Linked DNA regions of Homo sapiens. The protein of the gene in region 1 interacts with the protein of each later gene in a pairwise test. Each region holds a gene or a part of one and is shown on either strand. Other genes may lie near its edges.

Region 1 (3,917 bases):
ACACGTCTGCTCATAGCTGCAGGCAGAGAGGTAGGATCTCAGTGCCCAGAAATGCCTTTGGTCCTTAGTCCTGTGAGCTGCGGGAGGGAGGAGGAGTGGAGGGGTGGCTGATGAGAAGGGTTATGTGGTCAGGAGTCAGGTATAAATCCATATAGTGTCTGGTCCTAGAAGCAGGGAGCTTTCTTCAAGGTGGTCAAAGTATGGGAAAGTTATTTTGCTGTGTAAAATGCTGTTTAATGTAAGTGGCTAGGATTTGGGGCCTGAATTCTCCACAGAGACCCAGGCTGAGGGGATTGTGGAGCCTAACAGACTGAAAGCTTTCTGGACGTTGGAATGTTTTTGGGAGGAGCCTCAATGCCACACTGCCTGCACCCCCCGCCCCCACCACCGCCAGCCTTGATGAGCATCTCTTCACGGACGTGGTTGTAGCTCCCAGAGGCACCCTGTCCAGAAGCAGAAGACTTGACCATTGGATCTTGGCTTAAAGCCAGGTATGGGGCCAAGACTGCAGCCACCACAGGATACCGAACTCGCATCTCTGGAATAGTTCAGGCAGATGGGGTTTTGCCTTTTCCTAAAATTTTGCCAAGGGGGAAGTTCCTCCTGTCCACCAATCTGAGTCCTTTCTGCTACTGTTTTCATCCCATGCCTTGTGGGGGGACGGGTGGCAGCACAGAGTGAGGTGGATCCCTCTTCTCCCACTCCTTTCTGCACTGGCTTCTCCAGGAAGCCCTGATCATGGTCTTCTGGCTTTTGCCTACCATAGGCTTGTCCGGTTTCTCCTCTGGGTCCTCTGCCCTGGTTGGGCCTTCTTCCTAGTGAACTCTTCTAGGGGTGGGGTCTTCAACCCCATCCTCCACCCCTGCCCCCGCCACGGCCAAGCCAGATTTGCAGGGGTGGGGAGGGTGAGGTGCCTTTTCTCCAGCTAGGGTCTCCCTAGAGGACACACTGAGCACTCCCAAAGCCCCAGCCAGTGGCTCCTGCCCCACCCCAGCCCCAGCATCCGTGTGCCCTTCAAGGCGCGTCTGCGGCCCCGAGCCTGAGGCCCGGCCTCCCTGCACCCTTCTTCAGCCTGCTGCCCTGACACTGCGTTCTTGCGAGACGAGGTGTCTGCGCCCTCCGGGAGCGCTGGCTGCTGTCCGGCCAAATATAGACACCACGTCCTCCCCGCCCGAAACCGAATTTGGCGGCGCGGGGGGAGGAGGCGCAGACCTCTGCCCCTCAGGGACCCCGCCCGCTCCGCTGGCTGCGGTGACGGCCGGGTGTGGGGGGCTGGGTACCTGGTCCTGAGCGGGCTGCGGGGCGCTCACGCTGCGAATCCTCTGCGGAAGGGGCCCGAGTGCGTAGGGGGCCGAGGAAGGCTTCAGGGCGAAGGAGCCACCTCTCCGGGTGTCTGTAGTATCTGGGACCCGGGTGTCCAGCTCCGCACTCTGGCCGATCCTGCGGCTCTCTAGAGCCCGGCGCCGCTGCAGCCCCAGCTGCCGCTGCCATCAACCTAAGAGGGCGGGGCTAGCATAGGGGCGGGGCCAGAGCCCAAGTTGCCCCGCCCCCTCCAGCGGCGGGAAAGTCGAGCGACCCCGACTCCCCTCCCAGCTTCCGCCGGCCTCGGAGAACCATCGAAAATAAATGTGCAGCTGTGTGCTAGGTGCGCACGCTGCTTCCCTCCCTCCATGACTCCCGGGTAGGCTGGGGAGGCTCGGGTTCGCAGACCTAGAGCAGGACGCTTGGAGAGGGAACGGGCGAGGGGGCGTGCGCCCCTAGAGCGGGCAGCCGAGGGAGACCAGGTGCCTCCACCCGCATTCCAGCCTCAATCGCGCTCCCAATTTAGCTGTCCCGATCGGCCGGGACTGCGGGACTGCACTTCCAGGCCTCCCTGGGGGAAAGAGGCCCTAGAGAATGAGGACCCAGGCTGATCCTGATGTAGGGCAAGTGAGAGGGCACCCGACACAGGGTTGTGAATGTTAGTTATTGTTATGAATGGCAATAGCGATCATTTGAGAAACCTAAAATGCTGGCTGTGTGCTAGGCATTTCACCCCATTAGATGAGATTCCATGGAGCAGGGCAGGAAGCAGCTGAAAGAACAAGGGGAGGACCGAGTGTAAAGTGAACCCACCTTGACACTCCCTCCCCTCCCAGATGCAGGGGGAAGAGGCTAGCACCGGTCTCTAGTCACATTTTAGGGGTCAGAGAAGCCAACTCAGAGGCCAGACTCCTAATGTTTTCTGGGCCTTGTTTGAATTGGCGCCCGACTGTGTTCCAGGTAAGCTTCCCCCGTCTCCCCCAATATTCACAGAACTGAATGTTGACCGAGGTCAAGGAGATTAAAGATAACCTGATCAAAATACAGCCAGTGAAGACCAGCCAGTCCCGTAGCTCCAGTCTACCCAGTGTCTGCACATTGCCTGGATTTCTTCCCTTGGATCATAAGGGCATCTGGGGCCAGTTATTACTTCCCACCCTCCAGGGCACACCTGGGAGTGAGTGAATGGAACACAGCCTTCTGAAGGGCAGGAACCAGCACTGGGGAGGAAAGGGAGGGAAGGTGGTAGAAACCATGAAGGGCCCACGAGGCTCCTTTGTTTCTCAGGAAGAGTCCAGGTGGCTTGTAGGGACAGAATCAAATCAAGAGTCAGTGGCTTGTAGGGGAACAGAATAAAAAACTGTTACGAGTGCTCCAGAAATAACTCCTGGCGTAGGGGTGCTGGGGCAGGGTATGAGGGTATGTGAGTCATCTCTCTTTTACCTAAAGATTCCAGGCACATGATTAGGAGGAAAATACCTGAGTGACTCAGTTGCTCCTTTACAACAATAACCCATGCTTATGTGCTAGGCACTGGCACTAAGGGCTTTATACGTATTAATTTCATACTCTTAACAATCCTCTAGGCTGGTCGCGGGTGGCTAACGCCTGTAATCCCAGCACTTTGGGAGGCTGAGGCAGGTGGATCACCTGAGGTCAGGAGTTCGAGACCAGCCTGGCCAACATGGCAAAACCCCATCTCTACTAAAAATACAAAAATTTGCCAGGTGTGGTGATGCACACCTGTAATCCCAGCTACTCAGGAGGCTGAGACACGAGAATTGCTTGAACCTAGGAGGCAGAGGTTGCAGTGAGCTGAGATCATGCCACTGCCCTCCAGCCTGGGTGACAGAATGAGACTCTGTCTCAAATAAAACACACGCACAAAAAACCAAAAAACAATCCTCTAAGGTGGGTACTGTTGTTATCCCTATTTAACAGTTGAGGAAATGGAGCCACAAAGAGGTTAGGTGGCTTACCCATCACAACCTCAACTGGTAGTTGATGTAGCTATGATTCTTACCCACGTGGTCTGGCATCTGGTTCTTGCTTTTCAGCAGCATGCATTTCTGTCTCTCCCTGAAGGACAGTGCCACTTTATCTCACAAGTGCTGAGCTAAAACGTAACTGAGAGTTTATACTGTGTGGCACAGAGGAAAGGATGCCTGGAATGAATTAAAAAACTGGTTCCAGTCCTGGCTCAATCGCCATATTTTTACAGCTCTCTGAACAGGATTGGGTCAGATTCTTTCCAACTCTGCACCACTCCTTAGCAGAGTAGGGATTTTATGTGCTGCCTCCTCTGAAGTGGCATCTCCCCTACCCCCACCCTCCTTCTCTTTAAAGAGAACAGGAGACTCCCTTCTAGAGGGAAGCGCTTGGGACTAGGAAGCAGGAATCCTTCAATGCGTGCTCCCTTCAGTTCCATCATCTAGGAAGAGCAGTGCTTTCTGGGTACAGGGATTCAGATATTTGCTTGGGCCTGGCGTAGCTCAGCCCTGCCCTCTAGCCTTCTTCTGGCTGCCAAGGCCTGACAGAGCTGTGAGTGGGCAGAGTTAAGGCAGGAAGAACCAATCAGGGAGAGAAGCTACTTGGGCTTCGTGCCTCCCTTTTGA
Region 2 (3,917 bases), on another chromosome or scaffold:
TTCTAAAATCCTGGCTCAAAGTCCGTGGGTTTCCTGTTTAAAAGGGGCGCCATGAAAATGTAAGCTATTCCCTTTTTCCTGGAATCTTTAAGAGTCCCAGCTTTTCAATAGTCAAAATGTAGATGATTGATATCATTTCTTATATGAATAGCACTGGTTTGTAGTTCAGCACGCACAGTGAGCTGGGCACGCCCACCTGATAGTATAGCAGAGAACTTGTTTACATTCTTTTTACATTCATCTTCTAAAACCTGGGGTGCTCTCTCTCTCTCTCTCTCTCTCTCTCTCTCTGTGTGTGTGTGTGTGTGTGTGCGTGCACGTGCGCGTGTGTGTAGAGGGGGAGAGAGAGAGAGAGAGAACTGTGAACTGTGAAATATAACACAGCCAGCAGCTTTGGGTCTCAATCGTAGACTTACTCTTAAGGAAATTTACAGAATGGAAAGGTCATGTTCAAGTAGTTTATTAACATTTTGAGATGTAGGAAATTAATCCCGGAGTACAGAAGAACAATTTCAGACTTCCTGAATAAAAACAGACAGCATAGAGAGTGGATGATAGCTAAACTCTGAATATCTTTTGAGAAGAAAGGCACTCCCATTTCAGGTGCCCATAATATGGATTTGATTTTAGTGATTAAAACATTAATTTTCAACTTGCATCTCCCTGTGTGGAAGAGTTCAATTTGTGTGAGGGGTCTCGCCTATCCAACAAAAGTGAATATGTCCCTTTTATAGGGTAATTGCTAACTTGTCTCAACTTGTTTTCAAACAATTGTTATAGAGCACTCAGTTTCCACTAATTGCAAAATTGTTGCTTAATTGAAGGACTCTCAGCCATCTAGTGCAGCCATTCAGCCACTGGCAGGCTCTGTGATCTCAAACTGTGAATTGCATTTTAAAGAGGAATCGAGGAGAGAATTCTGTGGAATTCTAGGTTTTAAGTGCTGGCTGTTGTTCAATGGAAGAGGAAATCATTTGAACAAGAATCGCATCAAGTTGTGTTGTGATAAATTTTCTTTATTAGGATGAATAACATGCACAGATGAGCTTCAAAAGTGAATGAGCAAACTTACTGGTTACACTCTGCATCCATTTACTCTGTTTAGTATGGAGTAATGTTAGGCAATAAATGATGCTGGCAAATGAAATCCGTATGTTATTTGCATGTGGTATTTAAACCTAGGAAACATAGAGTGGCTTTGGTATTTGTAGGCTTAGTCATGTGTGTCCTAAACGTCCTCTTAAACTTCTACTTAAGGCATAGAATTATTTAATCCTAAATAATTTTATACTTAAGTGCCTCACTGGATTTCCAGAATATTTACACTGTAAAGATTTAGAAAGGTCATGAACCCAATTATTGACTATATGGAATCATTATTGATGGCAGATGCAAAATGGAGCTCACTAATGTACTGACATTGAAAACCTTTTGCAGGGGAGAGGAGGGGGAGTGGTAAATGTGTGTGTTCTTTAAGTGGAACAGGAAGGTATTCTCTTTTCTGTAGAAAAATTTGAGTATCTGGTCAGATAAGTGTGGAAGCTTTCATTTAAATTAAGTATTTAAGTTCAAGTAGAAGCTCTAGGGCACTTATCCTCTTGATGAGACAAATCTTATCAAATATACTAGATGCTAAGAAGTGGCTCATTGCCCTGATGTCTCATTTATAGATTGATGTTTGAGGATGGGTTGCATTAAGTGAGTTAGGGGGCTGAGTGTGGGACAGGAGAACGATTGGAAGGAAGCAAAGTAAATTTACAAGCTTTAGTGACAGCCATAATAAAGTAAAAGTTTATTTCCAGAGAGCCTAGAGAGTAAGGAACGTTATATAGTTTTCCCCAAAGGTTCACTTGAAAGAACTTTTCATTGGTTGTCATGGTAGTAATGTCCTGATTTTGAAATCTCCCAGAACCTAGTAGCTCTTAAACATGCTTTCATCTTGGTTCCTTTGGTCTGACGGAAACTTTATGACGACCCTCTGTGTTTTTGACATGCCTCTGCATTTTTGGAGAGAGGAGGTCAGGCAAGGGAGGATTTCTTAAAACTAAGACAGTATAGTAAGGAAACATAAAATTATATGATAAAAAATCACTGAACTTCAAATTGACTTACTGAAATAAAACCTAGAAGGCAACCTGTCGTTTAATTACAACTAGCTTGTATAAAATTAAAATTTATAAAATGGGAATTCAAAGAAAATAAACGGGCAGTTCCAAGTAATTTAAGCAACTCACCAAAAATTGAAGTAATAGTGCCACCTAGAGAACAAAATCACCAGCTTTACTAGCCAAATGGCTTATTTCCATATGAACCATTTTTCCAACGCTACAGTTACTAGGATTTCCTTGTTACCATATTCAGATCTTGTGAGTGTGTATGGGGGTGGGGGTTGCATGTGGAATTACAGATGAAATTTTAAAACAAGCAGATCCACAATTTGATATATGCACTAAATCCTTTTAACGTTGTAATGTAGCCAAATGTAGAATAGCATGCCAGGAATCAACGGCTAGCATCCTTTTTAACATTTATTATTTTCATGGATATGTACCAAACCGAACCATTGAGTATAAAGGTTCTGATTTTATTTATTTGCTACAGGCAATTCATTATACTTTCTGAGATACAATAACACCAAATAATTTGAGTAGAGAGACCTTTAAGAATGTTTTCGATTTATGATCTACCTTTAACTTTAATGTACTCAGAAGATGTGAGAATAAAATAAAGTCAAATATAAGCAAGATTTTAAACACACACACAAAAAACAAACAAACAAGAAAAAGGAAGAAAATTATAAGGATTGCCTTAACCTTAGAATAGATGAAGGTATACATCTGAGCCAGCACCAAAAAAAAAAAAAAAAAAAGTTATGGAACCAGGAACCAATAATTACAAATTGACTTAAAATTCTTGGATGACAAAAATCTATATTTAGTTCATTTTTGCATGCGCCCACAACAGCATCCAAAACAGTTCTGGGGAGGCACTTTGATAAATGTTGCTGAATGCACTAATAGATTGATTAATGGCTGCTTCAGATTATCACTAGTGATGTAGACAGAAACTTCATGAAAATGGTTTGTCTTGCTGGAAGAAAGGCAGAAATTGGAGGAAAAGGTTTAATAATATTTTTCCCCAGTACCTATTATAAAAGTCATTTAGTTGGCTTAGTTCTATAATTTCTTATGTGTAATTTGATTCACTTATGAAATTGTGAATATATGAAATGTTAAAGTTGATTTAGACAGCAACTATAAGCTTGTGGATTTTCTTTTAAATGTCTTCAAATTTTTAAATGCCAGTGGAGATGCCAGCGACTGTGCTTCAGGGAGTAGAATATAGTATATCTTAAATTTGTGCCAATTTCTGGTAAGCAGAGAAAAAATTGCATGATAACCAAAGAAAGTCATATTGTTTGTGCTTTGTGTTATTCATGGAAGCAATCAGGTGCAGAAAACTTTCTTTTTCAGAAAAAAAAAATTACTAAAATAAAGGTGCGTGTGTGTGTATGCACATATATCTAAAGGGAGAGAGGGAGAAGGAAACTTACTAAATAAAATTTTTGCCACATGGGATTTAGTCTAATCAGTCTTGGTTTTGGAGTTGCTATCATCAGTAGTTCCATTTTGTGATTCTTTCTTTCTGCCTTCATGTGCCTTTGAAAACTGAAACTATGCCCAAATTAAAACAAGTTTTTCTGTCTTTTCACATGTTCACTTATTTCTTGAATGTGTTTTTAAACACAGACAAACTTCTTTTACATCATGTAGAATCTGAAGGTCGAGAAATTTGCAGTCATTTTGCTGGAGAGAGATGCTTGGCGGAGTCCCAGGCCACATTCCTAGGCCAAACTCTCGAAGGTATTCCTCTTATGCAACATTGGGAAAATACATCCAGCACCGACATGTTGGCTG

What was found.
Region 2: the proteins of CORO6 (region 1) and BDNF interact in binary tests that used the Homo sapiens proteins (3 or more experiments, as listed by UniProt).

What each region holds. Positions count from the first base shown.
Region 1 is NC_000017.11:29,621,408-29,625,324, forward strand, and holds the start of CORO6 (coronin-6), read right to left. Parts: upstream 1,506-3,917; 5' UTR 1,492-1,505; coding exon of another isoform or gene 1,281-1,491; intron 78-1,280; 5' UTR 17-77; coding exon of another isoform or gene 15-16; coding exon 1-14.
Region 2 is NC_000011.10:27,693,539-27,697,455, reverse strand, and holds part of BDNF (neurotrophic factor BDNF precursor form isoform a preproprotein), read left to right. Parts: intron 1-3,917. UniProt on the Homo sapiens protein: Important signaling molecule that activates signaling cascades downstream of NTRK2. During development, promotes the survival and differentiation of selected neuronal populations of the peripheral and central nervous systems.